Regions from separate parts of the Homo sapiens genome. Here region 2 is linked to region 1. The links come from fine-mapping of genetic effects on gene expression. A gene starts in region 1. The other region holds a variant in brackets. All regions are shown on one strand. Distances are from middle to middle. Region 1 holds the start of TRPC4 (transient receptor potential cation channel subfamily C member 4). Region 2 overlaps TRPC4 (transient receptor potential cation channel subfamily C member 4).

Evidence for each region. PIP is the estimated chance that this variant, and not a neighbour inherited with it, causes the effect. A credible set is the group of variants that fine-mapping cannot tell apart.
Region 2: its variant is the best candidate, but not a certain one, in a credible set for the expression of TRPC4 in lung (GTEx, PIP 0.64).

What each region holds. Positions count from the first base shown.
Region 1 is chr13:37,868,171-37,871,088 of GRCh38, forward strand. It overlaps TRPC4 (transient receptor potential cation channel subfamily C member 4), which reads right to left and starts at 1,602. Exons shown (of 11, transcript NM_016179.4): 1 at 1,425-1,602. It overlaps LOC124903160 (a long non-coding RNA gene), which reads left to right and starts at 973. Exons shown (of 2, transcript XR_007063762.1): 1 at 973-2,496.
Region 2 is chr13:37,690,308-37,693,225 of GRCh38, forward strand. It overlaps TRPC4 (transient receptor potential cation channel subfamily C member 4), which reads right to left. Exons shown (of 11, transcript NM_016179.4): 4 at 1,692-2,028. Among named protein-coding and RNA genes, the nearest start is that of POSTN, 93 kb to the left of the region's middle. The variant C/T (reference allele first, on the strand shown) is at 1,095.

The DNA of each region.
Region 1 (2,918 bases):
CAGAAAAATAAATAATATAACCATTACAAAATTTTAAAGGTTATAAGTAATGAAAATCTATTCCAACTCATATATCTTTCAGAATGACCAGTGAGCAAGTAAATTGAAATTGATCTTATTGTTTTTTTTCCCCCCTTAAACATTTAAGGAGGATGTTTTCTGGACAATAGTGTCCAGGTGAATAAGAAAGTAGGCGCTACAAATGTAACTTTAAATAGCAAACCCAACACAATGATGAAGATTTCAACATTTTAACATCTCCACCCACTCTTACTCTCAATGTCTAATTTAGAGTTTTACCAAAAACACCCCAAACCAAAAAACCCTCCAGTAAACCTTTTGCTTAAAGAATTTGTAATATTCTTTGTGCTGTGATTATGTACTGTGAAAGGAAAGGCAGAAATTATATGAGCTCTGAGAGGCGGTGTTTTATTAAAACTGAAAAAGTTTTACAAGTCTGTCTATTTTTTTTTTTAATAAAACAACTAAAGCTTCCTTCTGTCTCTTCCTACTCCTTTGGCTTGGTGCTTACTCCTTAAGCAACTTGCTGCATTTTATAGCTATGGAATTTCACTGGGAAGGGCCTCTCTAAGAAGCCATGTGAACAGGGATACACCATAGTGGATACACCATAGTGAATGCAGGCAGACAAGATAAGAGATCCCTTTCCTCAGCTCTCCTAAACCCTCGATGCCTTTCCAGTATTCTCTTGTCTCTAGTCGCAAAAGACAGCTGACTTCACAGCTGGAACAACAAGTTGTGCAGTGAATCCCAGTGATTTAACCAAGTAGCAAACCGGGTCATTGGCTTCATTGGCTTCATTGGAATCTCGGTTGCCAGGCGAACTAGGAATCACTAGCCTGGGTCGGGCAACACGGATAAAAGTGTTTCTGTTTCTTGACAGAGAATGAAAACGACGCAGAATGTAATCGATCGGTAGAACATTGATCACTCTCCTTCCTTCGTTACCCTACTTTAAGTGCCGGAGAGCTAAGGCCTCACTTATATGCACCCAGATGCCCCCGAGATCTCCATTTTCCCCAAATGCATAAAAGGCTAAAAACGGCCACATTCCCCAGCACCACGGCGTGGCTGCAGCTCCTTTGTTTACCATATAAGTCACACCGGGGGTTCACTCCTCGCCCTCTCCCCTGCTTTAAAGCCGAGTGCGGCGGAAGACTGAGGAGCACCCCCAAACTCCTGCTCAGCCCGAGTCAAGCACCGAAAGCTTCACAGGTTTTTTTCCTGAGCCTTGAAGAGAAACCACATAGCCAGAACCTTTTGAACTCCTAACCCCGCAGGGATGTCCGCCTCCCAGAAGAGAGCCGGCTTCCCAGGCAGCTTAGGAAACTTAACCGAGATCCCAGAAAGAAGGCGAGGTGTAGCTCCGGTCGAACGGAGCCCCGAGGCGACATCCTCTTTACCTGCAAAGTTGCAATCTTCGGGCTGAAGTGATGGGATCCGAGGACTGACGGCGCGGGTGCCGTGCGGGGTGAGAGCACGCCCGGCAAATTCCAATGGAATTCCCTTAGTCGCTGCTGAGTTTTGGAGCATTCCAAGGAAAACGATCGAAGCTGGAGCCCACGCAGCTGGCACCGAACTGGGCGGAGTGAGGATGCTCTGAAAGCGAAGCCATGGGAGGCGGGGGAGGGGCGGCCCGGGAGGGGGAGGTAACCGCCAGGGGAGGAGAACCTCTCCCACCCCCGCCTGCACAGATCCCTCTGGATAAAGTTAAGAGTTCCCACGGCTGACAGCGGATGAGCCCAGAGAAAGGCACCCCGCCCTCCGTCCCTGGTGGCTGCCGGGCTCGGGGTCCGCACAGACCGCGCTGGAAAGGGATAGTCCGGGAAGATGCGCGTCCCACGCACCACACTGCTTGGAGGTGGAGGAGACCCGCGCGCTGGCAGGAGCTGACGCTGCGTCCCCAGCTTGTCCCCCTCGAATAGCCTCCACCTACCGGGGCCAACTGCTTGAGGTCAGCCAGTGGGCAGGGGAGCTCACCACCAGCCAGCCGTCATCCAGCCAAGTCGGTGGCGAGAATCCACCCTGTGGTTCTGGATGCAAGCCAGACACACCTCCAGGCTTAGGGCGGTCTCTGCAGGCGTGTTGGACTTCAGTGCGCTCCGACACCCAGCTTTTGAATGCCCTGCTCCCAGCCCGGTAAACAAGCACCCATGAGGCCCGCCGCCCGACCGGAAAAAAGTAGTCCCCTGCAACTCTCAAAGCTTCTCCCACTCCCGCTTCTCTGGGCGACTGGCACCCCCTCTCCTGTCCTCAAGGTGTCAGACTTCCCTTGCAAGAGCTGGAGGATGCGGCTTGCCACTAGTGTCAACAATCAAAACAGTCGCAATGAATAAATGATGAGCCACAGCGTTCCAACCACCCTCATCCAGCTTGGTCTTTCCAAAAGGCATAGGAAATCAGCAAGTTTCCACCAAATATACCAAAACCCTAAGACGCGAGCCAGCCCAAGGGTGCAAGGTTCTGCGGCTGCAGGTGATGTGCGTGTGTGCGAGTGTGTGTGTGTGCGATACTGGTACCATCTTACTGAGAGTGAGATTTCAAGATAAACGTTATCTCTTGTCCAATCTCTTTAGTGTTCACATATGAAAATAAGATTAAAGTACAGAGAGGAATACACACACACACAAACCACACACACACTATTGGCAAAGTTGGCAATAACACTTGCTGTAACTGCAACACGGTGATTCCCAGCTTGTCACTCGGAAAGTCTTAATTGGTTGTGACCCCATGACCCAGAGAAAGATAGAGTTCACGTGTAAGATAGAGAGTGGAGCCCTTGAGGAATCCTAGCTGGCAATTACCCTCCTCGAGACTCTGTTTCTACCTGATTGCCGTTATTTTCTGAAAGCCCTGAGGTTAGCTGCTGGTCTCTGATTGTATCCCAGCAGACG
Region 2 (2,918 bases), 180 kb before region 1:
TTTTTCTTCTTTTCTTTCATTTTTTGAGGCAGAGTCTCACTTTGTCACCCAGGCTGGAGTGCAGTGGTGTAATCTTGGTTCACCGCAACCTCTGCCTCCCAGGCTCAAACTATTCTCCTGCCTCAGCATCCCAGGTAGCTGGGATTACAGGCTGTGGCCACCATGCCCAGCTAATTTTCACATTTTTAGTAGAGATGGGTGATACTCCAACTCCTGATCTCAAGCGATCCGCCCGCTTTGGCTTCCCAAAGTGCTGGGATTACAGGCATGAGTCACTGTGTCCTGCCCGGCCTGACCCTTTTTTCTAATTTAAACAAGATCACATTTTACCCACTTTAGATTAATGAGAACCTACTCTATTTTAAAGTTCACCTGAGGATTTTGTTTAGTTATATAAGTAAAACATCAAATCTTGTCCCTATTAACTTTTCTTATTGACAATACTTAAAGTATGGTTTTTATAATTTTTAAAACTGAAAAACATATTTATCTCAAATAGGCTGTCTTTTTTTTTTCTGCCTTGATGTCATTTTAGTTTCTTCAGCAGTTTTGAGAGTTAACCCAAACTGATATTCTGAGATTTTGAATCATGAAATTTGTCACATATTTTCTAATAGCCAAATGATGAGATAGATATTATAGCAGAGAGGTTTAAAATAATGAGCTAAATTGAGAAAATGTGATTTCTCAGCAAACCATAGTATGATAGAGAAAAGGATAATTAAAATGCAAATTTTAACCATGGCTATAATAACAAGGAGAAAGGAAAACAAGGTTTTCACTAGCTACATTTTTTTCCTTTCTTTTTTTTTGAGACAGAGTCTCACTCTGTCGCCCAGGCTGGACTACAGTGGCGTGATCTGGGATCACTGCAAGCTCCGCCTCCCGGGTTCACGTCATTCTCCTGCCTCAGCCTCCCGAGTAGCTGGGACTACAGGCGCCCGCCACCACGCCCGGCTAATTTCTTTTTGAATTTTTAGTAGAGACGGGGTTTCACCGTGTTAGCTAGGATGGCTACGATCTCCTGACCTCGTGATCCGCCCGCCTCGGCCTCCCAAAGTGCTGGGATTACAGGCATGAGCCACTGCACCCGG[C/T]GGGAAAACAAGATTTTCACTAGCTACTTTAAGGTTTTCTACTTCACAGTGATTTGCTTCAGACCCAATACAACTTTCTATGACAAGAACAAAAAGAGAGTGGCGGATATCCTGTTGTTTAATTTCCTGTTATTTTAAATTAATATAGATTTCAAAGATAAATTTGAATGGATTGATTTTTTCAAAAGGTTTCAGTTACTTTATGTATAGAATCACTAATTCTTCAGAGTAATCTGCATGTACTTTTAGAAGACTTATCTATTAGGAATATTAGAATGATTATTTACATATAGTCAATGAGATATGTTGAAAAGTTTTAATAAACAAAAAACTCAGAGGGTCAGTCGTGGAATATGAAGTCATTAAAATCTGTAATTCTAAAATTTAAGGTTACGTTTCTTAAGCTGATTTTGTAAGCGGGTCCACCGCAGCTTGTAAAATAGTTGTTTGGCTTTGGGGGTGAGGTTCTTGGAGCTACAATAGTCAGAACCTATTCTAAACATTCCTAGGTCCCAAACATTAATGAATATTTTCTGAGCAACGAAATTCCGTGGCAGTAACATGTTTTTATTATATTTTCTATAGTAACACATTTACCCAGGACCCACGGTAATATCATCCACTCGACGATGGTTGGTGGTGGACCTTGCCTGTTCAAGTCTGACCTGTCGATGTGCTGAGAGGCAAGCAGCAGCAGGAACAAAAAAGTCAAATAGGAGGCTGTGTGGCAGATAAACTTGATAAATGGCTTCCTGATGAACAGTCCAAGTGGGCTTTTGGGAGCTATCAGGTAGCACACAGAGAAGACAGGAAAAAGAAGTCCTATTATGAAACATGTCACCATCTTCACTGCCCAGTGTCTTCTCCTCCAGCCTGGAAACTCATCGTACCAGCGAGATGCCAGCAGCTGTTGACAATTGGGCTGGGCAACAAACTAAACAGAAGGGAAAGGAAAAGGAAAAATAAGTCACAGTTACATGGAGTGGCCTCAATTCATCAATAAGAACACAATTGTGATCTTTAAAGACAGAAATTCTGTTTCACATAATTTTACATTTAAACAATCAAAAGGCTTTAAGTCATTCTGTGAATAAAGCCAATGTATTGAATATTTATTCTACCCAAGGCACAGTATGACATGCTTAGTGAGACATAACTGAAGTCAAAATACTGTGGCTGCACTTGAGGAAGCAAAAATAGAACTGGGGAATACGAATATGCAAAAGATACGCTGATAAGTGAACAAAGCAGTTTATAAAGATACACACCTATATACACATATATAAGAATATATAAGTGTGGCTCTTTTTTGATATAGTTGTTATCTCTTGGTTACAACATTACACTTAATTTTTATTTTTATATTTGTGTGTACTTTTAACAATTTTCTATAATAGATATTTATTACTTTCATCATCAGGAAAAGCAAATGAACTTTTCTTTATGAGGTACAAGCTAAATATACTTTTAATTGGGTTGAGGCAATATGAAAAACAGATGAAAGAAAGTAGTATTCACCAGAATGTTAATCATCATAGCTTAATTCGGTATAAACAATGCAAACACCTTACCTAAGTATACCTAATTGCCTTATACAAAACATTTCACAGACATGGCATCATTCTATCCTGACAACATTTTTGTGATGTAGCATGGACACTACTTACTGTATGTTAAGGTTACATATCTATCAAATTATGAGATGTTTGAATATCTGGTCCAGGATTTTTTTCTCAATATCTCTTTTTTTCTCAGTATTTCTCAGATTTTTTTTCTCAACCTTTCTCATTGGGATTGTCAGTTAAGCAATATATGAATTAAGAG